Linked DNA regions of Homo sapiens. The gene in region 1 interacts genetically with each later gene. Each region holds a gene or a part of one and is shown in the gene's direction. Other genes may lie near its edges. The genes, in order: SREBF1, PRDM4, ENO3, ZC3H11A, HECTD1, KDELR3 and KHDRBS1.

Evidence for each region.
Region 2: changes in SREBF1 (region 1) and PRDM4 together harm fitness more than expected from each alone (negative genetic interaction), as found in Homo sapiens cells (one large-scale study listed by BioGRID).
Region 3: changes in SREBF1 (region 1) and ENO3 together harm fitness more than expected from each alone (negative genetic interaction), as found in Homo sapiens cells (one large-scale study listed by BioGRID).
Region 4: changes in SREBF1 (region 1) and ZC3H11A together harm fitness more than expected from each alone (negative genetic interaction), as found in Homo sapiens cells (one large-scale study listed by BioGRID).
Region 5: changes in SREBF1 (region 1) and HECTD1 together harm fitness less than expected from each alone (positive genetic interaction), as found in Homo sapiens cells (one large-scale study listed by BioGRID).
Region 6: changes in SREBF1 (region 1) and KDELR3 together harm fitness more than expected from each alone (negative genetic interaction), as found in Homo sapiens cells (one large-scale study listed by BioGRID).
Region 7: changes in SREBF1 (region 1) and KHDRBS1 together harm fitness less than expected from each alone (positive genetic interaction), as found in Homo sapiens cells (one large-scale study listed by BioGRID).

Annotation. Positions count from the first base shown.
Region 1 is NC_000017.11:17,826,987-17,830,486, reverse strand, and holds part of SREBF1 (sterol regulatory element-binding protein 1), read left to right. Parts: intron 1-3,500.
Region 2 is NC_000012.12:107,758,338-107,762,551, reverse strand, and holds the start of PRDM4 (PR domain zinc finger protein 4), read left to right. Parts: upstream 1-1,414; 5' UTR 1,415-1,595; intron 1,596-1,780; 5' UTR 1,781-2,036; coding exon 2,037-2,047; intron 2,048-2,583; exon of another isoform or gene 2,584-2,780; intron 2,781-4,159; exon of another isoform or gene 4,160-4,214. UniProt on the Homo sapiens protein: May function as a transcription factor involved in cell differentiation.
Region 3 is NC_000017.11:4,954,119-4,957,629, forward strand, and holds the end of ENO3 (beta-enolase), read left to right. Parts: intron 1-956; coding exon 957-1,179; intron 1,180-1,288; coding exon 1,289-1,486; intron 1,487-1,823; coding exon 1,824-2,025; intron 2,026-2,454; coding exon 2,455-2,563; intron 2,564-2,712; coding exon 2,713-2,771; intron 2,772-2,859; coding exon 2,860-2,929; 3' UTR 2,930-3,011; downstream 3,012-3,511. UniProt on the Homo sapiens protein: Glycolytic enzyme that catalyzes the conversion of 2-phosphoglycerate to phosphoenolpyruvate. Appears to have a function in striated muscle development and regeneration.
Region 4 is NC_000001.11:203,802,123-203,805,622, forward strand, and holds part of ZC3H11A (zinc finger CCCH domain-containing protein 11A), read left to right. Parts: coding exon of another isoform or gene 1-70; 5' UTR 71-894; intron 895-3,500. Other genes in the region: uncharacterized LOC128031836, read left to right, coding at 1-70. UniProt on the Homo sapiens protein: Through its association with TREX complex components, may participate in the export and post-transcriptional coordination of selected mRNA transcripts, including those required to maintain the metabolic processes in embryonic cells.
Region 5 is NC_000014.9:31,099,794-31,103,293, reverse strand, and holds the end of HECTD1 (E3 ubiquitin-protein ligase HECTD1), read left to right. Parts: intron 1-227; coding exon 228-378; intron 379-1,969; coding exon 1,970-2,114; intron 2,115-2,226; coding exon 2,227-2,364; 3' UTR 2,365-3,177; downstream 3,178-3,500. UniProt on the Homo sapiens protein: E3 ubiquitin-protein ligase which accepts ubiquitin from an E2 ubiquitin-conjugating enzyme in the form of a thioester and then directly transfers the ubiquitin to targeted substrates.
Region 6 is NC_000022.11:38,478,096-38,481,021, forward strand, and holds part of KDELR3 (ER lumen protein-retaining receptor 3), read left to right. Parts: intron 1-1,497; coding exon 1,498-1,656; intron 1,657-2,926.
Region 7 is NC_000001.11:32,020,368-32,023,867, forward strand, and holds part of KHDRBS1 (KH domain-containing, RNA-binding, signal transduction-associated protein 1), read left to right. Parts: intron 1-3,500. UniProt on the Homo sapiens protein: Recruited and tyrosine phosphorylated by several receptor systems, for example the T-cell, leptin and insulin receptors. Once phosphorylated, functions as an adapter protein in signal transduction cascades by binding to SH2 and SH3 domain-containing proteins.

The DNA of each region.
Region 1 (3,500 bases):
CAAGTCCAAGAACCTTCAGGTTCTTAACAATGTAAAGGGAGCAGTACTAAAAGCAGCTTCTTGGAATTGTGGGGATCCGATGAGTGAAGGCTTAAGCAGTGCATGGCACATAGTAGGCCCTGAACCAATGCCAGTTAGTGTTATTATTATCACCATTTAGCCAGATGCAGTGGCTCACGCCTATAATCTTATTGACTTTAGAGGCTGAGGTTGGAGGATTGCTTGAGACCAGGAGTTCAAGACCAGCCTGGGCAACATAGCAAGGCCCTGTTTGTTTTAGAGAAAACAAACAAATCACCATTTAGAGCACCTAACCAGTACCTGGCACGCGATAGGTTTAGCTCAACAAATGTTAGCAGCAATTACCCAAGGAGCCTGTGCTGGAAGTTTCTAGGATGTACCAGGCTATGGTTCCAAGTTCTGAGCATCTACCATGTGGTGGTCTGGAGTTGGTGAGAGACAGGATGGGGCTGACTAGGCCAGTGGGGAGCACCCCCCGCCATGGGGAACAAGCACCCTATCCTTGGCTTCCATGGAAGATAATTGATGCTGGGCACAGTGGCTCACGCCTGTAATCCCAGCACTTTGGGAGGCTGAGGCAGGGGGATCGCTTGAGTCTGGGAGTTCAAGACCAGCCTGGGCAACATTGTGAGACCCAAACTAAAAAAATTAGCTTGGCATGGTGGAGTGTGCCTGTCGTCCCAGCTACTCAGGAGGCTGAGGCTAAAGCTGGAGGATTGCTTGAGCCCAGGAGGTTGAGGCTGCAGTGAGCCATGATCATACCACTACACTCCAGCCTGGGCAACATAGTGAGGCCCTGTCTCAAAACAAACAAACAAAAAGAACCTGCTGAGGAAGCAGTGTTTCTGGCTGGGGGAGGACGGGCAGAGTGGCCATCTGGCCACAGATGGCGGTTTCTGTGCAAAACACATCAAGGCAGCCTTGGAAATGTGAGTGAAAGCACCTTCAAAGTTCTGGTCACAGCCTTGGGACTAAGCAAAGCCACCAAAAGTACATAAAAGACAATGACCATCACCCAGTGCCGGTGATGCTAGAAGGAAAGGGAATACGTTGTAGGGAAGGTTGTAAAGGGCTTTATCTTTTCCAGACTGGAGCCTGGCAGCTCGAAAACATCTTGCTGCCTTCATATGAGCTTTAAAACAAGCTGCAGAGAAACAACTCAAGAGGGAGAAATATATATATATATGTGTGTGTGTGTGTATGTGTGAGTGTGTGTGTGTGTGTGTATACATATATATATATATATATATATATATATATTTTTTTTTTTTTTTAAGATGGAGTCTCGTTCTGTCACCAGGCTGGAGTGCAGTGGTACAATCTCGGCTCACTGCAACCTCCGCCTCCTGGGTTCAAATGATTCTCCTGCGTCAGCCTCCCAAGCAGCTGGGACTATAGGCACATACCACCACGCCCAGCTAATTTTTGTATTTTTAGTAGAGGCTGGATTTCACCATGTTGGCCAGGATGGTTTTGATCTCCTGACCTCGTGATCTGCCTGCCTTAGCCTCCCAAAGTGTTGGGATTACAGGCGTGAGCCAGTTTGTTTTTAGAGACGGGGTCTTGCTCTGTCACCCAGGCTGGAATACCATGGCACAATCACAGCTCGCTGCAATGTTGAACTCCCGGGTTCAAGGGATCCTCCCACCTCAGCCTCCAGAGTAATGGAGACTACAGGCTCATGCCACCATGCCCAGCTATTTTTAAAACTTTGTAGAGATGGGGCCTTGCTACATTGCCCAGGCTGGTCTTGAACTCCTGGGCTCAAGTGATCTGCCTGCCTTTGCCTCCCAAAGTGCTGTTATTACAGGTGTGAGCCCCTGCGCCTAACCTTAGCACTGCCATTTTGACTGAAAACAGGTGCCCAGCAGCAGGGGCTACTCCCAGAATTGCCACTGCATCAGGCCCGTGGGTTGTTTTCAGCTGCCAGTGATAAGTATGTGCCCTGGGCCACCTCTCGGACAAGGTGTCTGAATTGGTGCCGACCAGCATCACATGTAATTGCCATCTCGCAGGTGCTGCTGAGGGTAATTCCGCACACCTGTAGCTCCGGGAAGAGCCTAGTGGGGAGGAGGAAACGTGGCTCTGAGGTTTATAGGGTCAGACGGTCAGTATGTTGGGAGCTGGCATGTGGAGGGGCACAGACAAGGGAAGAATGGGAGGTGGCATCAGAGCAAGTTTTGATGGAGGAATAGGAATTCACCAGGTGGAAAGGGCATTCCTGGTGGAGGGAACAGCCTGGCCTTCAATAGCTTGTGGTGTTCAGAAAGCAGGCAGGGAAAGGGAGGCCCAGGGAGACACCAGTTAGGGGATGGGGGTGGAGGCAGACGAGGGTGGAGGAAGCCATGGCTGGAGTCTGCACGGCCTCTGACTGGGGTCCCTGCTGTGGTCAGCCCTGTGCTGGGTGAGGCTGGGGTCACAGCTGGTTCAGGCCCTGACAGGAGGGGCCCCCAGCTGAGGCCCAGCCTCTAATTTGGCAGGGCAGGTGGATAGGTCTGGGGGGGTGGTGGTTAGGAAGCCTCCAGGAGGAGGCAGTGCCGGAGCTGAGCCTTAAAGAGCTTCGTGTTGTCCTCTCTGTCTTTGCACTCTGCACACACTCACTGAACTGCGACAAATGAGGATAGCTGGTCAGGGCAGAGGCAGGCCGGAGTTGGGGCTCACTGCTGTCCCCCACAGGCTGGGGCTGAAGGGCAGGCTCTGGGGCCGCAGAATGGGGTTTGTGTACCAGATTCTTCATATGGCAGCTGTGGGACTTTGGGCACGAGGCCTCCGTCTGAGCCTTAGTTTCCTCAAGAGGACCTGCGCCCAGGTGCACCTGGGGCTCCAGCCATGGGTGCGTCCCATTCCGGGAAGAGCTGGCACACACTTGTGCCCCCGGGGCAGCCATGAGTGCACAAAGGGCAGCCTGTGCCACTGCTGGATACACGACCAGCTGAGAACACGAGGACCGCCGACTCCAGTTAGGAGGATCAAGGAAGTGCCTGGTGGGAGCAGAACAGCAGGTGGGGTGCAGCCCAGCTCCCTGGAGGGATGGTGGGCACCCATCCTCACCCTGCTGCCTCCATTAGCAGGCCGAGAGGGTGTGCTCTGGAATCCCATGAGCACCTGTGCCACATCCTCCCCTGTGGCTGACCCTTCTTCACAGTTGGTGCAGCTTTGTGGTCTGTAGTGCAGGGATCAATTGGCAAATCCCTTTCCCACCCATTCCCTGGAGAATTGGGGTCCTTGGCTCAGATGACAGACCAACCTGAGTTGGAATCCCAGCTCCTTGGTGGCCGTCCTGGCCTCCACCCCCTCACTGCCTCCGCTCCTCCTATCCTGCCCACGCCCACTGCAGGGCCTTTGCACACACTGTTTCTTCTGCCCTCCCTTCCGGCCCACTCCCTCATATCATTCAGTCCTCCTTTCAGATGTCACCTCCTAAGATGGGCTGCCCTGACCACCTCATCTATAATGGCCCCAGTGCCTGGCACAGGATT
Region 2 (4,214 bases), on another chromosome or scaffold:
TTTTGTAGAGACAGGGTCTCACTTTGTTGCCCAGGATGGTCTCAAACTCCTGGGCTCAAGCGATCCTCCTACCTCAGCTTCCCAAAGTGCTGAGGAGAGAGCCACTGCACTTGCTCCAATTTTTTAATAGTTTGTGATTTTTTTGTCCTATCAAGGTCACAAAGATTTTTGCCTTTATTTTCCTCTGTAAGTATTATGGTTTTAGCTCTTACATTTATGTGACCTGATTTTTATGTTCACCTCTCAACTTAATAAAATTGTTCCAAAAGAACAGACATCCAAACCCAAACCTAGTGAAAGCATTCGGCCGGTAATAAGATACATCATCATTCTCTAGGCTCCAGATTTGAAGTGGCATTTCAGGGAATACTGTCTCTCAGTTGAGATGATGACCTTCTTGATTTAGATTTCTATTTGTTGTCAACAGAGAGCAAAACCAATGTGACCTGCCTGCCAATGTTCAGTGAAGTTTCCTCATCTGGAATGTGCTTTCCCCCCATGAGAAGTAAACGAAGGGAAACATTATGGGGGTTGACACCCCTCCCAGCTCTCGTCCAAAAGGTTGCATGTGCCTCTACCCTTTCACATTAGACTGAATTTTCAAAATTCATCAGTTCCCACTAGACTGCAGGCAGGTGAAGGTCAGGGCTTGTGCCTTGCTCTGTATCCCTAGGTTTGAGATGTAATTCAACAGACGCTTTGTGAATGACAGGAAGAATTCCTGGGTCTGCTGTTCTGCTGGTGTAAGGGAGCCACCAGGCAGTGTGGTGTAATTTCAACGTCTACTGCTCAGGAGCTTGGGACCACCTTCCTTTAAAGCCATCTCGGTACTCCTAGCGTTAGGCACAGTGCCTGGCGCGCAGTAGAGAACTGAGGGCAGAGAAAAGGGGAAGGAAATTTTGTTTAAAATCCCAAACCCCAGCATTTACGACGGGAAGCAGGGAAACTGGGCAGCCTTCAGGTGTAGCAGACGGCCGAAAATATTCAGGATAGAATCCCAATTCCTCCTGGGCAGCAGAGGCAACCCTCGGGGCCAAATCCCATACTTCGAATTTTGGGGGCTTTGTGTGGACCCATGCTTCTCTAGTAGGGGAATGTCATGAAGACGAAATCCTGAGTCTGCGGGATTTAGGGGATTCAAAACTCAATCCCTGCAGGAACAGCAGCCCTGGTCGCCTAGCAACCATGGGCCGATCGCTCGGCGCTCGATTCTACCCGGCCGGATGGAGACGCGGAACTCCCGGCCGAGCCTCTCGCGGCCAGTGCCTCTGCCGTGCGCACGCGCGGAGGGGCCTGGGCTGGGAGAAGGGCGACGCGGTGCGCGGGCGCCGCTTGCGGGCCGCGGCGGGGAGGGCGCACGCACGAGGGGCGGAGCGGCGGGCGCTGAGAGTGGCTGAGGATCCGGAAACGCGCCGCAGAGGGTGCGGCCCAGAGGAGGCCGCGGGCCGGGAAGGGCCGGGCGGGACGGGAAACGTTAGGGCAGCGGCCCCCGGGGTGAGGGGGCCGAGCGGACGGGCAGGGCCCCGAGGCGAACTCTGCCCGGATGAGGAACAAAGCAGTGGGGCAGGCGCGTGCGCCCCCAGCGCAGCTGGCAGGTGGGCTGCGCGCGGGCCCGGCCGGAGCGGGGCGGGGCGCGGCGGCCCGGCCTGCGGGCCGCGGGCGGGCTAATCCACAGCCCTTGGGTGGCGGTGTCGGCAGCGCCTGGGGCTTTCGGGTAGCTGGGATGGGGGCTGCGACCTTGTTGTGGTTTTGGTGACCGCTCTTGTCCCCACTCCCCCAGGTTGGGCAGCCCCCTTCCCGAAGCTTCTGGACGGAAGGCCCCAGGTGTTCCCCGAGATGCCCCAACCCGTGGCGGGGTGCACGGCCACCGGCCCTCGGGAGAAGTTGGGCGGCCCCGGGCGACCCCGGGGACGAGTGGCCGCGTCGGTGCAGCGGTTGTGAGCAAGATGTGGTAGCACGTGACCCTGGAACGCAAACCCTGATGCCTGTTCCCCACCACCCGAGCGCTCCTTTCTCTGATATTTGGCCCCAAGCCGATGCATCACAGGTGAGTAGGGAGGTGGGCTTCAGCACTGGTGACATCGTTGGAAACTCTGGCGAGTGAGTGTCCAGGGTCAGTGCCGTTGTTTTTGGTGCCATTGAGAAGGTTACAGGTGTGATTTGCAAAGGAAACAAATCCAGAAACTAGTGTTGGGTGGAATGTAATCTCATGCATCCTAATTTACTCCACATGTGGAAAGTTGTTCCCAGTAGCCACACGTTTATTGTTGGCTTGTTGACACCTTTTCCTGTGTCTTTCAGTTATTTGAGCGTTTAATATATTTTTCCGGATTCCAACGTGTATTGTTATCTTATTATGCTTCACCTTGAGTTTTGCTGGTATGGCAGGGACGATAGTGAGGGAATTAAGTTCTTAATTCTGCAAGCTTCATGCTGATGTTTAAGTACAGAAGCAGGCCACAGAAATTGTTGCATTTGGCTGTTTTTTCAAGGCCCTTTCAAAGGCCGTATGTTTAGAATAAGGAAGATAAGGCACAAATTCATTGAAATTATTGAAGCCCCACTGCATTTTTCAAAGTGGCTGCATTTCAGTTAGTTTATTATATTTTATGCGAAGAAAAAGGTGTAAAATCAGCAACTGGCAGATGGTTGCATAGGTCAGTTAGAAACACACACATAAACTGTAGAACTGTGTAGGAAATTATTTTACCCTAAATGAGTAGGGAAGATAGAGCTTAGTATCTTGATTCTTGCCTTCTTCCGGGATTGCTTCTTAGAATCTCATAGGAGAAAGAAAATGAGAATAGAACTGCATTTTAGAATGAGAAAGTCTTATGAGGATCATATTGTACATTCCCTTCATCTGCCTTCTCTCTGTGGGATACTCATTACCTTTGGTTTATGGCTGCTGAGGTCATCACGTTTTAGTGACTCACAACAAAGCAGAAATCTGCTGAGCCTCTCGCATTAAACTCTGGTTTGAACTGGTTTGAGAAGGCCTAGGAGTCAACCTAGAAACACCATGCTGATTTTTATCTTGAAATTAAATAAATATTCAGGAATTTTCAGAATGAGAGTTGAAGGTGCAGACTTGTAGTTGTACTTTTAAAAAAATATTGTAACCAATTTGTTAAGTAGGCTGTTACAGCTGTAGTGATTGTAGTGTTTTAATTATGGTTGTAGCTATAAAGAGTTAGGGAAAAGTCTGTTTTAAACCAACTCAAGCCCAGCAACTTTCAAAATTAAGGTAGATATGTTTTCTTTAGGCTACAGGGATTTTTTGCTTTTTTTGTTTTTAAGACACAGTCTCACTCTGTCACCCCAGCTGGCGTGTAGAGGTACAGGCAGAGCTCACTGTAGCCCCGACCTCCCCACTTCAGCCTCCCCTGTAGTTGGAACCACAAGCACGAACCACCATGCCTGGCTAAGTTAAAAAAAATGTTTAGTAGAGACAGGGGTCTCACTGTGTTGCCTAGGGACGTCTCCAAGTCCTGGGCTCAAGCGATCCTTCTGCCTTGGCCTCCCAAAGTGTGGGATTACAGGTGTAAATCACCACACCTGGGCTGCTTTATTTTATAGCATAATAAAAACTGTTATTAGCATGCTGTTCTTCATAAGGTGTACCTCATTTGCCAGGTGCTTCTAGCTGTCTTTCTGGTAAGGGTGATGAGTTTGCATAGCTCCATCCGATAAAATAAGAAAATTCAGAATGTCTGTTCTATACAAGGTACTAGGTTGGCCTTTTACATTTTATTGATGTCTTAGAGCTTAGTTTTATGGGATCCATGGCCAGGGATAAGGGTGAAACCTAATAATGCAAGAAACAGGTCTATGTGGAACTTTAAATATACGCCACAATATAAGTAGATAGGCCCTAATGTATTGCAACTGTGTAAAAGGCAATATAGTTCTTTTATTGTAATTGTCTTTTTCTTACTATAGTTAAGAGCTTTGGTTTCTTAAATTAGTTCTGAATTTAAATCCCAGCTCTCCTTACTGGTTATGTGATTCTGGGTTAAGTTTCCTAGCATCATTGAATCTTAAGTTTCCTCATCTTTAAAGTGGGATTAAGAATAATACCTACCTCCAGCCTGGGCAACATAGGGAGACCCCATCTCTGCAAAATAAAAACAAATTAGCCAGGCATGGTGGCACTTGCCTGTGGTCCCAGCTGCTTGGGGGCTGAGGTGGGAAGATCTCATGAGCCTAGGAGG
Region 3 (3,511 bases), about 13 Mb from region 1:
CACCCTACACCCAAATCATATTGAGAGTTTCTTTGAGGCAAAGATCTTGGCATTTCTTTGTATCTTCTTGAGTCCTTCTTAAACCAGTGCCTTCTTGATGAATGGAAACTCTTTGAATTTAATCTCAATAATAATGTTACCATTTCTTGTTACTTACTAGGAGGATTGCATAAGAGCATGGTCTCTAGAGATAGATTGCTGGGTTTGAATCCTGGCTCTGCCTGTTATTAGTTGTATGATTTTAGGCAAGTTCTTTAACTGCTCTGTCTCAGTTTCCCCATCTGTAAAATGGGGGGTAATAACGATACCAATGAATAGAGGTGTTTTGAGAATGAAATGGGCTAATACATGTAAAGTACTTAGTGCGTGGCATGTAGTAAGTGCTATATAAAAGTGTTAGCTATTATATACTAGGCACATGCTAAGAACTTTACATTCAATTTCTCTAATTTTCAGCAAAAGATCCTACAGGGAAGTAGGTGCTATCCCCATTTTACAGAAATGAGGAAAGAGAGGCTGGGCACAGTGGCTCACGCCTGTAATCCCAGCACTTCGGGAGGCCGAGGCGGGCAGATCACAAGGTCAGGAGTTCGAGACCAGCCTGACCAACATGGTGAAACCCCGTCTCTACTAAAAATACAAAAATTAGCCAGGCATGGTGGCACCCACCTATAGTCCCAGCTACTAGGGAGGCTAAGGCAGGAGAATCACTTGAACCCGGGAGGCGGAGGTTGCGCCATTGCACTCCAGCCTGGTGACAAAGTGAGACTCCGTCTCAAAAAAAAAAAAAAAAAAAGAAAGAAATGAGGAAAGAGGCTCTTGAGCAAAACTACTCATCCTAGACCACTGAGCTAGTAAGTAGGGAAGCCAGGTTTCCACCCCAACACCCCCCGCCCCTGTCCCTTCTTGAGCTCTCATGCCCCGGCCCAGGTCCAGACACCCTCTCCCCATCTCAGGCCTTCAATGTGATCAACGGGGGCTCCCATGCTGGAAACAAGCTGGCCATGCAGGAGTTCATGATTCTGCCTGTGGGAGCCAGCTCCTTCAAGGAAGCCATGCGCATTGGCGCCGAGGTCTACCACCACCTCAAGGGGGTCATCAAGGCCAAGTATGGGAAGGATGCCACCAATGTGGGTGATGAAGGTGGCTTCGCACCCAACATCCTGGAGAACAATGAGGGTCAGTGCTGAGCACCCTGGGGGGCAGACCCCCTGGATCTCCACATGGGCAGGGGAGGCTGCAGACAAGGGGCACTGGAGTCTCAGGTCCTTTCTTGGTCCTCCCCCAGCCCTGGAGCTGCTGAAGACGGCCATCCAGGCGGCTGGTTACCCAGACAAGGTGGTGATCGGCATGGATGTGGCAGCATCTGAGTTCTATCGCAATGGGAAGTACGATCTTGACTTCAAGTCGCCTGATGATCCCGCACGGCACATCACTGGGGAGAAGCTCGGAGAGCTGTATAAGAGCTTTATCAAGAACTATCCTGGTGAGGCGTTCGGGTGTCCCAGTGTTCCTGCCCGAATCCCGTGCAGCTGCCTAATATACTGATTTCAGTGACCTGCTTTGCCATCGACTTGGATCCTTCCAATTCTTAGCCCCATTAAAATCCCCATTTAAGCTCTTCTGCCCTGTCACCCCTCCATGAGGCTCCTTCTGACCTCTAGCCGTGTCTCTGCCCTGTCTCTGCCTTGTCTCTGCCCTGTCTCTGCTCTGTCTCTGCCCTGTCTCTGCCCTGTCTCTGCCCTGTCTCTGCTCTGTCTCTGCCCTGTCTCTGCCCTGTCTCTGCTCTGTCTCTGCCCTGTCTCTGCTCCAAACCCCACCAGTGGTCTCCATCGAAGACCCCTTTGACCAGGATGACTGGGCCACTTGGACCTCCTTCCTCTCGGGGGTGAACATCCAGATTGTGGGGGATGACTTGACAGTCACCAACCCCAAGAGGATTGCCCAGGCCGTTGAGAAGAAGGCCTGCAACTGTCTGCTGCTGAAGGTCAACCAGATCGGCTCGGTGACCGAATCGATCCAGGCGTGAGTGCCTCCTGACCCTGAGGCTCACCATAGCCTGCCTCTGCCCCAGCTCTGCCCACTCCAGCTACAGTCTTACCCACCAACTCCAAGCTTACCTTTCCCCTGGCACCTGACTTACCCACACCTTGATCTCAAGACTTTGTTTGACTAATCCTTGGCCTGACTCCAAGAGCTTTGCCCCTGTGGCTCTGTCATGACCCCCCACCCCCAGCCCACACCATTCCTCTCTCAGATTCCGCTGTTCTCAGCAGCATCTCAAGAGCCCGAAATCAAGATAAGTCTTTTCCTCTCCTACTTCCCAAAGAACTTAGTCACTGCCCTCCCTGCAGAGTGCTTGCTACCCAAAACAGAAGGGAGAGGCCCCACCCAACCCCTGCTTTCCCACTGAGGAGGTTCTAGAAGGCCACATCAAATGTCCTCTCCACTCAGGTGCAAACTGGCTCAGTCTAATGGCTGGGGGGTGATGGTGAGCCACCGCTCTGGGGAGACTGAGGACACATTCATTGCTGACCTTGTGGTGGGGCTCTGCACAGGACAGGTACTTGTAGCTTCTCTCTACTGAGTGTCTCACCAAGTTTTCTTGGGGTCCCTGGCCTCCTGCCTTTGAGGTTAATGCTCCCTTGGGGCCAGGTCCAACCCCTCCTTTCCAGCCTCACCTAACCCTCCAAATTCTTCTTCCCTCATCAGATCAAGACTGGCGCCCCCTGCCGCTCGGAGCGTCTGGCCAAATACAACCAACTCATGAGGTACAGCGGGAACAGTGGGCCTGGGCATTGGGGTGCTGGAGGCTGTTAGGTTGGAAGTTCAGCAGCCCTAACCTTGCCTGCATTCTAGGATCGAGGAGGCTCTTGGGGACAAGGCAATCTTTGCTGGACGCAAGTTCCGTAACCCGAAGGCCAAGTGAGAAGCTGGAGGCTCCAGGACTCCACTGGACAGACCCAGGTCTTCCAGACCTGCTTCCTGAAATAAACACTGGTGCCAACCAAGACAGCTGTGTGCTTCTTTGTGGGAGCTAGGGGATGCTGGTTTCTGGGCTGAGCTGGGGAAAACAGGAGGTGGCGAGATGGGGGCGGGGAGGGGAGGCAAATAGATATGTAACCTGCTAGGACAAAGAGGAGGTGAGGGACTCACAGAGGAAGCTGGGTGGTTCTAGAACAACAGAGGTGTTCACATTTCCAAAGGAGGTAGGGGAAGCAGATGCTATATGGTAAAATGAAGCTGCAGAGTTGCCAATGGAGCCGGGCATGGTGGCGCTCGCCTGTAGTCCCAGATACCTGGGAGGCTGAGTTGAGAGGATCGCTTGAGCCCAGGAGGTTGAGGCTGCAGTACACTATGTTCGTACCACTGCACTCCAGCCTGGGCTGCAGAGCAAGACCCTGTCTCAAAGCAACAACAACAAAAAAAAACAAAAACAAACAAAAAAACTAAATAAAGAGTTTCAGAGGGAATAAGAAACCAGCTCCAGGAGAGGGGAGCAGGGTGGGGA
Region 4 (3,500 bases), on another chromosome or scaffold:
GCTTGCTGCACCACTCTGTAGTTACTCTATTACCATACGTTTCTATCTTTTTTGGTTAAACACTCCCTGATGACGATGATGGATATATATACATACATCCATATTATACATAATGATATATGTGTAAGGATTTACCTTCGTCTTTATTTTGTGGGCTGGGCAAAATTTAGTGTAACAATAACTTCATGATACTTTGGTATAAGAGTAAGTTCTTTATTTTTATAATGAACCCAAATCTAAAGTCTTTTATAGTGCATTTTAAAAGGGGAAACTTATCCAAATGTTATATTTCTATACATTTTTGTGTATATGTGTGTGTGTATAAGCCAGTTAGTATATATCTGTATGTATATTATATACATAAAACACTATATTTTTACATACAAGTATGCTTTTATTATACAGATAATAAAGATGGGGGAAGGTTTCTGTTTTTTTCTTAATAGGTGAAGAAATCTTGAAGACCAGAAATTGGATCTTACTGAAAAACTGATGTTTTTTTGTTTTTTTTTTAAATTATATTGTTCAGCTATGGAAGATGGAGTTTTTTTTCATGATCCTTTAACTCTCAAGTTCATCTTTAAATGAACTCTTTTTTTTTGTTTTTTTTTTGTTTTGTTTTGTTTTGTTTTTGAGGAGATAACTAACCCTAGCTGTCTCCAGTCTGACAAAGGTTATTTGAATGGACTTAATCTCCCAGTAGTTGGGAGATGTTTTAAAAACACATGCTGTGTTTGAATTGTGGCTGAGAGGTTTTCTTGGCAATGTGAGGAGGAAATTTTTTTCTGCCTCATTATTATTAATTCATGGATTGAGTGTTGGTTCGACCTACAGGCGTAATAGATTGGAACTCAGTGAAGACACAGATGTTCCTGTTCAGAGCAACCAGCTAATGTAAGTGGGGAAGCAGGCATTTTTCGCATGAAAGGAGTGAACATTCTTGTCATTTAAGGCATAATTTTCATGGATCAGTAAGAAATTAAAAGGCCATTGTTCAGACATTTTTGCTTGTACATAATTGTTTACAAATTTTTAGTTTTGGGATGGAAACATATTTTTTTCTTTCTTTTCTTTTTTTCTTTTTTGGAGACGGAGTTTTACTCTTGTCCCCTAGGCTGGAGTGCAATGGTGCCATCTTGGCTCACTGCAACCTCCTCCTCCCAGGTTCAAGCAGTTCTCCTGCCTCAGCCTCCTGGGTAGCTGGGATTACAGATGTGCACCACTACACCGGATAATTTTTGTATTATTAGTGGAGATGAAGTTTCACCATCTTGGCCAGGCTGGTCTGGAATTCCTGACCTCAGGTGATCCACCAGCCTCAGCCTCCCAAAGTGCTGGGATTACAGGCATGAGCCACCGCCTCTGGCCCATAGTTTTTCTTTCTTTGTTTTGATAATATATGTACATTGTAAAAAAGGTAAAAACAGCATAGCCAAAGTGAAATCTTCCTGTAATTCCATCTCCTTGGAGAAAAGCACTGGGTTATTTTGTTTCGTTTTGAAACAGGGTCTTGTGCTCTGTCACTGAGGCTGGAGTGCAGTGGCATGATCATAGCTCACTGCAACGTCAAACCCCTGGGCTTAAGAGATCCTATTGCCGAAGCCTCCTGAGTAGCTGGAACTACAGGTGTGCCCCACTGTACCTGGCTACTTTTTAAAACCTTTTGTAGAGATGGAGTTGCTCTGTGTTGCCCAGGCTGTTCTCAAACTCCTGGGTTCAAGCAGTCTTCCTGCCTTGGCCAACCAGTGTTGGGATTACAGGTGTGAGCCACCATGCCTGGCCTCCCATTCCTTTTTAAATAATGATTCTAGATGATTTTATAATCAAGTTCCAGTAATAAACTCTAATTGGGATTTTGACTTGAATTACATTCGATGTGTGCATTATTTTTTGGGGAGAAGTAATTTCTTTAATCCTCTATTTATTCATTATCCAGGTCTTCTGTGCCTTAGTAGTTTCATAGTGTTTTGGTTTTGTTTTTAATTTAATGTGGGTCTTGCATACTTCTTCATTTTCTTCCTGTATATGTGTTTTTTTTTTTTTTTTTGAGACAGAGTCTCGCTCTGTCGCCCAGGCTGGAGTGCAGTGGCGTGATCTCGATTCACTGCAAACTCCGCCTCCCGGGTTCACGCCATTCTCCTGCCTCAGCCTCCCGAGTAGCTGGGACTACAGGCACCCGCCACCTCGCCTGGCTAACTTTTTTGTATTTTTAGTAGAGACGGGGTTTCACCGTGTTAGACAGGATGGTCTCCATCTCCTGACCTCGTGATCCGCCCGCCTCGGCCTCCCAAAGTGCTAGGATTACAAGCATGAGCCACCACGCCCGGCCCTTCCTGTATATCTTTTTATTGTGAATGGTCTCTTCCTGTATATCTTTTTACTGTGAGTGGTACTCTGCCATCATCTGAATGATTATTGCTGGTATGAAGGAAATTTACTGCTTCTTGTAGATCTTACATTTTTATTATTTTCAATTTGTTTTAGTTGATAGATTTTCTAGTTTGCAAGCATGTAATCTGCAGGTTCTGGATTTTTTTCTTTTTTGCCTCATCTTTTTTTTTTTTTTTGATATGGAGTATTGCTCTCGTTGCCTAGGCTGGAGTGCAATGGTGCTGTCTTGGCTCATTGCAACCTCTGCCTTCCAGGTTCAAGTGATTCTTCTGTCTCAGCCTCCCAAGTAGCTGAGATTACAGGCGCATGCCACCATGCCCGGCTGATTTTTGTATTTTTAGTAGAGATGGGGTTTCATCATATTGGCCAGGCTGGTCTCAAACTCCTGACCTCAGGTGATCTGCCCAACTCGGCCTCCTAAAGTGCTGGGATTACAGGCGTGAGCTATTGTGCCCGGCCTGTCTCGTCTTTTTAATATATGTTTGTAATTTATGCCTTTTTTTCCTTTTGAAAAAATTGAGTAAATAAATGTCCTATTCATCAAATATCAAGAAATATTCATTATTGATTTCAAGATGTAGTATTAAGGAAACCACAGAATCAAAATACCCACTTCTGATACAGTAGTGATTTTTTTTTTTTTTTTTGAGACAGAGTCTTGCTCTGTCGCCCAGGCTGTGGGGTGATCTTGGCTCACTGGACCTCCGCCTCCTGGGTTCAAGCAATTCTCCTGCTTCAGTCTCCCGAGAGTAGGACTACAGGCGCCCGCCACCACACCCGGCTAATTTTTTGTATTTTTAGTAGAGATGGGGTTTCACCATGTTGGCCAGGCTGGTCTCGAACTTCTGACCTTGTGATCTGCCTGCCTCAGCCTTTCAAAGTGCTGGGATTACAGGTGTGAGCCACCGCGCCCTGCCAGAATCAAGTTTTAGTACAAAGAAAGCATTTCCCAAGCAATGAGTCTCAAAGGAAAAAAATAGAAGAGCAATGTAATTAAACTTTCCTTCAAAGAAAGGACAGAAACGTATCTGTTACGGTAAATTTGGAAAGATCAGTATTTCATAGTCCCATAATATGTTTTACATGATGTACTTAAATGCAAATGTATG
Region 5 (3,500 bases), on another chromosome or scaffold:
TGGGATTACAGGCGTGAGCCACCGTGCCCAGCCCATTCTTTTTTATGGTTGCATAGTATTCCATTGTGTACATATACCACATTTTCTTTACACATTCATCCCTTGATAGATACTTAGATTGATTCTGATAATGGGTATTTTGGTTTGAAATTTGGTATTTTGGAATCGTAACTTGGAAACTGAGTTGTATGTTTGTTTTTTGTGTTTCCGTTACATGTACGATGTAGATGGGTTTAATAAAGTTTTTCCAATGGAGAAATTAAGTTCCTTCAGCCATGAAGAAGTCCAAATGATTCTTTGTGGAAACCAGTCACCATCCTGGGCAGCAGAGGATATTATCAATTACACTGAACCTAAGCTGGGTTATACACGTGACAGGTATGTGATACTATTTTCCAAGATCAACAAAATTATTTATATTCCCCAAATCAAATGACAGATTCTCTAAAGAACTTTAATTCAGTGAGTATCATAAAGTAAGTGAGAAAGCAGTGGTGTCTCACAGTTACCAGAATGCATATCCACTGATAAGGCTGGGAGGATACAAAAAGACAACTGACAGCAGGCCGGGCGCGGTGGCTCACACCTGTAATCCCAGCACTTTGGGAGGCTAAGGCGGGCGGATCACTTGAGGTCAGGAGTTTGAGACCAGCCTGGCCAACACGGTGAAACCTCGTTTCTACTAAAAATACAAAAATTACCTGGGCGTGGTGGCAGACGCCTGTAATCCCAGCTACTTGGGAGGCTGAGACAGGAGAATCACTTGAACCCAAGAGGTGGAGGTTGCAGTGAGCCAAGATCATGCCATTGCACTCCAGCCTGGGCAACAAGAGTGAAACTCTGTCTCAAAAAAAAAAAAAAAAAAAAGACAACTGACATCATGGCTGATGTTGATTCCTTTCCTCATTGTGTTTTAATTGTTCATTTTTAAAATTTGGTAAATTGTAAGCTGTTGGGCTATATACTACGTTTATATTAAACTTTTTATTGAATATAACAGATAAGTACACACATCATATATACAGTTTAGAGGATTTTGTCAAAATGAACACACCTGTATAATTGGTATCCAGAATATGAAACAACTTCAAAAATCCCCCTTCCCACCATATTCTTTTCTATTAATCTAATCACCATATGTTGATCAGTTTTGCTTGCTTTTGAACTTTTAATATATGAAATCATGTAGTCTGTTTTCTTTGTGGTCTGGTTTGAGTAATATTATGATTATGAAATTTATCCATGTTGTGGCATGTCGTTCATTTACTATTTCATTACATAAATTTATCACAAGATAATTATTTTGCTGGAATAAAAATTATTTCAGATCCCCTTTGGTATATTTATCCATATTTGAAATGATTTTGCAAGTGCATCCTGTGTTTTTATGATTTGCTGACTTTGTTGCAGAATAGATGGACCCCATACACTGTCAGTATTTTTTAGTTCTTACAATTTGTAAGTTCAAGACAGTCTTTGAGGGATTTTTATTTTTATTTTTGAGATGGAGTTTCGCTCTTATTGTCCAGGCTGGAATGCAATGGCACAATCTCAGCTCACTGAAACCTCTATCTCCCAGGTTCAAGCGATTCTCCTGCCTTAGCCTCCCAAGTAGCTGGGATTACAGGCGTGCGCCACCACGCCCAGCTAATTTTGTATTTTTAGTAGAGATGGGGTTTCACCATGTTTGTCAGGCTGCTGTTGAACTCTTGACCTCAGATGATCCACCCGCCTCAGCCTCCCAAGGTGCTGGGATTACAGGTATGAGCCACCACACCTGGCCCGGGATATTTTTAAAGTAGCTTATATTAGCCCATTTCATACTTAACCAAGAGTCTCTAGATGTGTTGTTGTTCTGGTGTGAGGATATTGTTTTTTAGGGGGCTTGTTGCTGCCTTAGAAAATAGTGGTAGTGATTTTCATTTAAATCTGCAGTCAACTCAATATAACTATATTTTTGTTCTTTTAGCCCTGGTTTCCTGAGGTTTGTGAGGGTTTTATGTGGCATGTCTTCTGATGAAAGGAAAGCATTCTTGCAGTTTACCACTGGTTGTTCAACTCTACCCCCAGGTGGACTGGCTAACCTGCATCCCAGGCTCACGGTTGTACGCAAGGTACAAGCTCTCTGGCTAATGGGGAATCCAAATGAAATTTAGTTACTTTACTTTTGAAAGAAAGAAGTATTTAAACTCATGGTCTTCTGTTGTGTTTGCTTTCTTGTTGTAGGTTGATGCTACTGATGCAAGCTATCCATCAGTCAATACATGTGTGCATTACCTTAAGTTGCCTGAATATTCTTCCGAGGAGATCATGAGAGAGCGCCTGCTAGCTGCTACAATGGAGAAAGGCTTTCATCTCAATTGAGCTTTGAAGTGCAATGGGAGACATCAGAGACTTTAAAAATACTAGTGAAGCCTCTTGTGTTTGTGTGCAGAGAAGTATATGATCCACCATGCTAATGACACTTGCCTTTTTTTCCACCATTAAGGCTTTAAGAACATGTGGAATAAGTTTTTTAGCTGCTAATGACAAAACAAATCCTGTAACTACCCAGCCAGCAAGTATATAGCACAGAACACTGTGTTACTTTACAAGGGCTTATGTGACTGGAATAAGGTGGTCCCACTTGACTGTTCCAAAGAGCAGCTTCTCAGATCTTCAGTGTTCACTGGTAAATTTCTAACAGTGTATTTGTGTAAAGTTTGTCATTTCATACTCCATACACTACAGTTGCTGTCACTGATCCCTGTTTTGCTGGCTTTTAAGCTACTTGGTCAAAAATCCTGCTTCCTTAAAACATAGAGAATTAATGAGCATCTCAAGCTTTTTCTTTTCCTTTTTAATGATGCCTGCACTATCAAGAGTATTCTAGTGTTCTCTCTTTGTTTGGCATATAATCATGCACCAAACTTTTTATTTCTTTAAGGTGGGAGTATATTTTTATTTCCTAAATGCCATACTATGAAGATCAAAGTCTTAAGTGTGTTTGCAGCTCAAAAATAAAGATGTATTAAGGGGGGAAAACCTGGTCTAAGTGCAAGGCACACTTACAGCGAGTTTTACTTTCGGTTGTATTTTCTTTGTATATTATAAACATTTATTTAACTTGTTGCCGTTTGAAGTAAAAAATTTCCAAAATGTATGCTCAACAATAATCATTAAAATGTTTGCAGCGTACAGAACTGTGTCATGTGACTATTTCAATGCAGTCATCAGACTTAAGAGCTTTAGCAGGTACTTGTCATTTTGAATCATCCAAAGTTTTCTGAAATTACTACATAAAGAAATGTGTTTTTCTATAGTAAATACGGGTATTAAAATTGAAAGGCTAGAAGAAATATATATTCACACACTTGTGATCCAATGGTTGGGTTCAGTTTTAAAGTATGCCTCAGCTAGAACTGACCAGTTACTTGTGTTATTTTTTTAAAAAAACACCAGATCCACAACTTAACTATTGTATCTATAAGGATATATAAGTAAGGATGTAAGTGAGATCC
Region 6 (2,926 bases), on another chromosome or scaffold:
ACATGGAGCTATGGCGACAGAATGTGTGCCTCATTGTAGTGAAAAAAAGACTGCTTCGAGGAAATAACTCCAAATAGGAGTACAAATAGGAGTGCTCTAGGCCAGTGTGGTCCTGCTCCGGCAGTATCAGCGTCACTTGGGAAACTTGTTAGAAATACAAACTTTTAAGGCTGGGCTCGGTGGCTCATGCCTATAATCCCAGCACTTTGGGAGGCCGAGGCGGGCGGATCACCTGAGGTGAGGAGTTCGAGACAAGCCTGACCAACATGGTGAAACTAAAAATATAAAAATTAGCCGGGCATGGTGGTGCACGCCTGTAATCCCAGCTACTCAGGAGGCTGAGGCAGGAGAATCACTTGAATCCAGGAGGCGGAGGTTGCAGTGAGACAAGACTGCACCACTGCACTCCAGCCTGGGCGACAGAGCGAGACTCCATCTCAAAAAAAAAAAAAAAAAGGAAGAACAAACTTTCAGGCCCATCCAGACCTATGAAATCAAAAGCTCTTGGGGCAAGGGAAGAGACAGCATCTGTGATTTTTTTTTTTTTTTTTTTTTTTTTTTTTTGAGACAGAGTCTCACTCTTATCCCCCAGGCTGGAGTACAATGGCATGATCTCGGCTCACTGCAACCTCTGCCTCCCGGGTTCAAGCGATTCTCCTGCCTCAGCCTCCCAGGTAGCTGGGATTACAGGCGCCCGCATGCATGCCTGGCTAGTTTTTTTATTTTTAGTAGAAACAGGGTTTCACCATGTTGGCCAGGCTGGTCTCAAACTCTTGACCTCAGGTGATCTGCCCACCTTGGCCTCCCAAGGTGCTGGGATTACAGGTGTGAGCCTCCACACCCAGGCAGCATCTGTGTTTTGATGCACACTCATTTGAGAAGTGCTGGCCTGGAAGGTTGGAGGCCATATCAAAATGAAATCATTATATGCCAGAGGACAGCTACTGTGATTAGGAGAGCTTTTCTGAAGGAGCAATGGTCAGTTAGTTCAAGGGATGTTAGCAGGCCATAAGTAGTCCCAGCTTCTAGGGAGGCTGGAGCAGGAGGATCACTCGACCCCAGGGTTTGAGGCCAGACTGGGCAACATTTAAAAAAAAAAAGGCTAGTCCTTGTGGAAGAATGCTCAGAAGTCACTGATGCATATCCAGGAAATTGTTTTAAAATTGTTTCAAGAGCCCTGGAATGCCTCTGGTAAATCCCCTGAAATAGACCAATCCTGTTTCACCTAATGCTCCACAAATGAAGGGGACGACAAGGGCACCTTTGTTCATGGCAGCACTGTCAGTCCCAGTATAGAAGCATGGAGTTATTTAATGAAAGGGTCACTGATTTCAAATTCTAGGCAACTGGACCCAAGATAAATTGCAAACACATTTAACCTCTTCATGTTACATTATGGCAGAACACTGACCCTTAGGTTTGGTAGGCTAGGAGCGTAGTAAATAGGCCGGGAAATGACTTCATAGATTCGATTCCCATGTCTCTCTCCCCTTTTAGGTGGTTTTTCTCCTCTGTGCCTATGTTACAGTGTACATGATATATGGGAAATTCCGTAAAACTTTTGACAGTGAGAATGACACATTCCGCCTGGAGTTTCTTCTGGTCCCAGTCATTGGCCTTTCCTTCCTTGAAAACTACAGTTTCACTCTGCTGGAGGTAAGGGAATGGACTGAGTACCAGTTCTCAAAGGGAAATATGCTCCCTGCATCCTTCCCTCCAGACCCTGGGCTTGCCTTCTGCTTACAACTGTGACCATTACTCATGTATCTTTCAGTTATAAGTTGAGAAGAAATTGACAAGCTATTTACAATGCTTTAGTTGGAAATGAGCACATCTCAATAGTCATGATGCCCATAAACCAAGCAGGCATCACAGCCCTACTTCTGGCTGTTGAGACGTTCTGTTCAACCGATTAGCAGATCCCTGTATCCCTGTAGCACAGTCCAGGCCCAGAAATTTCAACTCAGTAAGTTTGGACTGTGGCCCATGAATCTGCAGGCAACAAGCATCATGGGAGATTCTGATGCTGGTGTTTATGGACATGACTAATTTTTTATTATTTTTTTGAGATGGAGTCTCACTCTGTTGCCCAGGCTGGAGTGCAGTGGCAGGATCTCAGCTCACTGCAACCTCTGCCTCCTGGGTTCAGGTGATTCTCCTGTCTCAGCTTCCCAAGTAACTGGGATTATAGGCACGAGCCACCACACTCAGCTAATTTTTGTATTTTTAGTTGAGACGGGGTTTCACCATGTTGGCCAGGCTGGTCTCCAACTCCTGACCTCAAGTGATCCACCCACCTCGGCCTCCCAAAGTTCTCGGATTATAGGTGTGAGCCTGGCAACATGACTAGATTTTAAGAAACTGTGGCTTCAATTATGATTTTATACTATGAAACTATCATTTAAGTTATTTTTGGCCGGGCACGGTGGCTCATGAGGTCAGGAGATCGAGACCATCCTGGCTAACACAGTGAAACCCTGTCTCTACTGAAAAATAGAAAAAAAAAAATTAGCCGAGCGTGGTGGCAGGCGCCTGTAGTCTCAGCTACTCGGGAGGCTGAGACAGGAGAATGGAGTGAACCCAGGAGGTGGAGCTTGCAGTGAGCCGAGATCGCACCACTGCACTCCAGCCTGGGAGACAGAGCGAGACTCCATCTCAAAAAAATAAATAAAAAAGTTATTTTTGGCTGGGTGTAGTGGCACATGCCTGTATGTAGTCCCAGCTACTAAGGAAGGTGAGATGGAAAGATCACTTGAGCCCAGGAGTTTGAGACTGCAGCAAGCTATGATCATGCCACTGCACTCCAGCCTGGGTGACAACAGCAAGACCCTATCTTAAAAAAAAAAAAATTAAAAGTAGTTTTCTATATAAATGCTCACGCTACACTGTGAAAAAAGCAGTGTACTGTATAATCTTTCAAAAATTA
Region 7 (3,500 bases), on another chromosome or scaffold:
TTGAGCTGAGATCGTGCCACTGCACTCCAGCTTGGGCAACAGTGAGATCCTGTCTCAAAAAAAAAACGTGCTTACCGTATCGTTCAACAGTTGCATTCTTGGGTATTTATTTCAGGGAAATTAAAACTCAACACAAAACCTGTACATGAATGTTCACAGCAGCTTTATTCATAGTAGCCAAAAACTGGAAACAAACCAAATGCCTCCAATAAACTGGCACACCCATACAGTGGAACAGTACTGTGCAATAAAAAAAAAAAAAAAAAGGAACTGTTAATAAATGCAGCAACTTGCTTGATCACAAGAGAATTAAGCTGAGTGAAGAAAGCCAATCTCAAAAGGTTACATACTATATGATTTCATTAATATAACATTCTTGAAGAAACAGAATAGTGGAGATGAAGACTATATTAGTGGTTGCCAGTGGTGAGAGATGAGGGAAAACGGTGACTGGCTATCAAAGGGTAAGGATCCTCATGATGGAACTGTTCTGTATCTTGACTGAGGTGGTGGTCACATGAGTCTGATTAAATTGCATAGAACTAAGCAAACAAGTACATGTAAAGGTGGTGAAATCCTAATAAAGTCAATTGTTAATTTTTTTTCCATGAAACCTGTACAACAAATTTTCTTATTTTAATGTTAATTTTCTGATTGTGATACAGATATGCAAAATGTTATGGGGAAAACTAAAGTATACAGGATCTCTGTTATTTCTTAGAACTGCATATAAATCTAAAATTGCCTTAAAATTAAAAAAAAAAATTTTCAAAGTTGCAAAGCTCTAAATTGTGCACTAAGGAAAAGATTTGGGAGACCATAGTCAATATGACAGAGTTTTCTACTGTCCTGGAATGTAAAAATTGAGCCCATATGAAAGGGCTTGTAACAGGCCTTTGGGGGATTTTTTTTTAACCAATACCCAGCCTTTCTATACCCATAGCCAATATTGTATATAATATATTATGAGTTTATATTTTTTTCTGGGTTGCTAATCAGTAGCTTCCATCAAATTCTCAGAGGGACCCATGATTCCAAAAAAAATAAAGAACCTATTGGCTTTGTGCTCTTGCTTGAAACAATAAGTAATTTGATAAATAAAACAAATGAAGTTGTTTTGCAATAGTAAGCTTATGGGACTTCTGATTCCAAAAGATGATACCAACAGAAAAGTTGAGAATTATAAATTTGGGGATGATAAAGTCATGTGAGTTGTTTAAGGGAAGTTGAGGGTGTTAACCATACTTTTTTGTATTTGTTTTTTTTTGAAACAGGTTCTCACTATGTCACTCAGGCTGGAGTGCAGTAACGCAATCTTGGCTCACTGCAACCTCTGCTTCCCGGGTTCAAGCGATTCTTGTGCCTCAGCCTCTCAAGTAACTGGGATTACAGGCGCATGACACCACACCTGGCTAATTTTTGACAGGCAGGCGGCACCACGCCTGGCTAAGTTTTGTATTTTTAGTAGAGACAAGGTTTCACTGTGTTGGCCAGGCTGGTCTTGAACTTCTGACCTCAGGTTATCTGCCTGCCTCAGCCTCCCAAAGTGCTGGGATTATAGGCGTGAGGCACCACACCCAGCGGCACATTTCTTTTTTTTTTTTTTTTAAGGAGATGGAGTCTTGCTCTGTCACCCAGGCTGGAGACTGGAGTGCAGTGGCATGATCTCGGCTCACTACAACCTCCACCTCCCGGGTTCAAGCGATTCTCCTCTCTCAGCCTCCTGAGTAGCTGAGACTACAGGAGCGCGCCACCACGCCCAACCAGTTTTTAGATTTAGCTAGAGTAAATCTTTAAATCTTTAGTAGAGACAGGGTTTCACCATAGTAGAAACAGGGTTTCACCATGTTGGCCAGGATAGTCTCGATCTCCTGCCCACCTTGGCCTCCCAAAGTGCTGGGATTACAGGTGTGAGCCACCGCGCCCCAGCCGGTACATTTCTTTTAATTCGGTTAATGATTATAGATGCCTGTTGTGTATCAAGCATTGTACTGTACTAAGAATTACAGACACTCAGCAATGGAAGGAGTCCAGAGATTGTTAACAACAGGCAAAGGAGGAGTGCTGTGTTTAGAAGTGTAGAACCAAGTATAGTGGGAGTCTAGAGGAGGGTATGAAATGAACCCTGACCTTTTAGAGCAGTTCTGAGAATCTTGCTCTCCTAGAAATACTCGCTCTGGATACTTAGAAAATCTTGACCATTGTCTTGTTCCTTATGCAGGCCATATCAAACGTTCAGTTGGCCGGGCGCGGTGGCTCACGCTTGTAATCCCAACACTTTGGGAGGCCGAGGCAGGTGGATCACAAGGTCAGGAGATCGAGACCATCCTAGCTAACACGGTGAAACCCCGTCTCTACTAAAAATACAAAAATTAGCCAGGTGTGGTGGCATGCGCCTATAGTCACCAGCTACTCGGGAGGCTGAGACAGGAGAATTGCTTGAACCCGGGAGGCGGAGGTTGCAGTGAGCCAAAATTGCGCCACTGCACTCCAGTGTGGGTGACAGAGCAAGACCCTGTCTCAAAAAAAAAAAAAGTTCAGTTAATGATATATTTGTATTGATTTTTTAGTTAAGCCAGACCAGTTGATAAAGTTGGTATATAATTTTCCCAGACTTCTCTAATATTAACTTTTTTTGTGTGAGTTACATCTCTTTTTCGCCCTCTCTCTTTTTTTCTTACTATTTTTCTTATTAACATTCTCTTTTAAAGTCATACACCAAGCATGTAGGAGAGCTGGGAATCAAACCCACTTTGTCTAGCTTCAAAACCCTTGTCTTTCCTCCAAGATATATTAAGCAACGTGGAAGCTTATAGTCTGGTTGGGATAAAATCTACAAAAAAAACAAAAGTGGGGGGTGGGAAAGGTTAAGTTATAGTAAAAGATGAAGGAAATTTTGAAAGGTTAACTGAATTTACTTTCTTTGGTATAAGAAGTGACTTGGGTTTAAGTATCTGCTATGTCACTAATTAGTTTTGAGATCTTGGACAAGTTATATAGCTTTTCTGAGCCCGGGTTTCTTCATCTGTCAAATGAAGATAATACTGGTTACAAAGACAAAGTGAAATAATAAATACAAAATTCCTGACGCATAGAAGGCATTGGATAAGATATGATTATTCTGAGTGGCTGGGAAACAAATGGGTCACCTCTTGTGTTGTTTACACCTCAGCTTTGTTTTCTTTGGCCCTTGGGATATCCAAGGTCTCCAGAGACCCAAGCAAAGATTACTTAAAGGAGTCAGTTCCAAAAGGGTTGTCTAGAAAGTACTTTTGCCTGAGGTTAAACCATTTTTAGGAAGCTCCTCCTTGATTTTTTGTCTTCCCATTTCAGTCTACTCTAGCTCTCCGGGGAAAGCAAGGACAAGGAGAGACATACAGAGTTGAAAAAGAAAAAAGAAAGACCAGACCATCAGACAACTGAACATCTGAGACACCCATAAAGCCCTTTTATTACCTTTAGGCCACATGCCAGTGTCTGAGGGTATAAATTGTACTTAA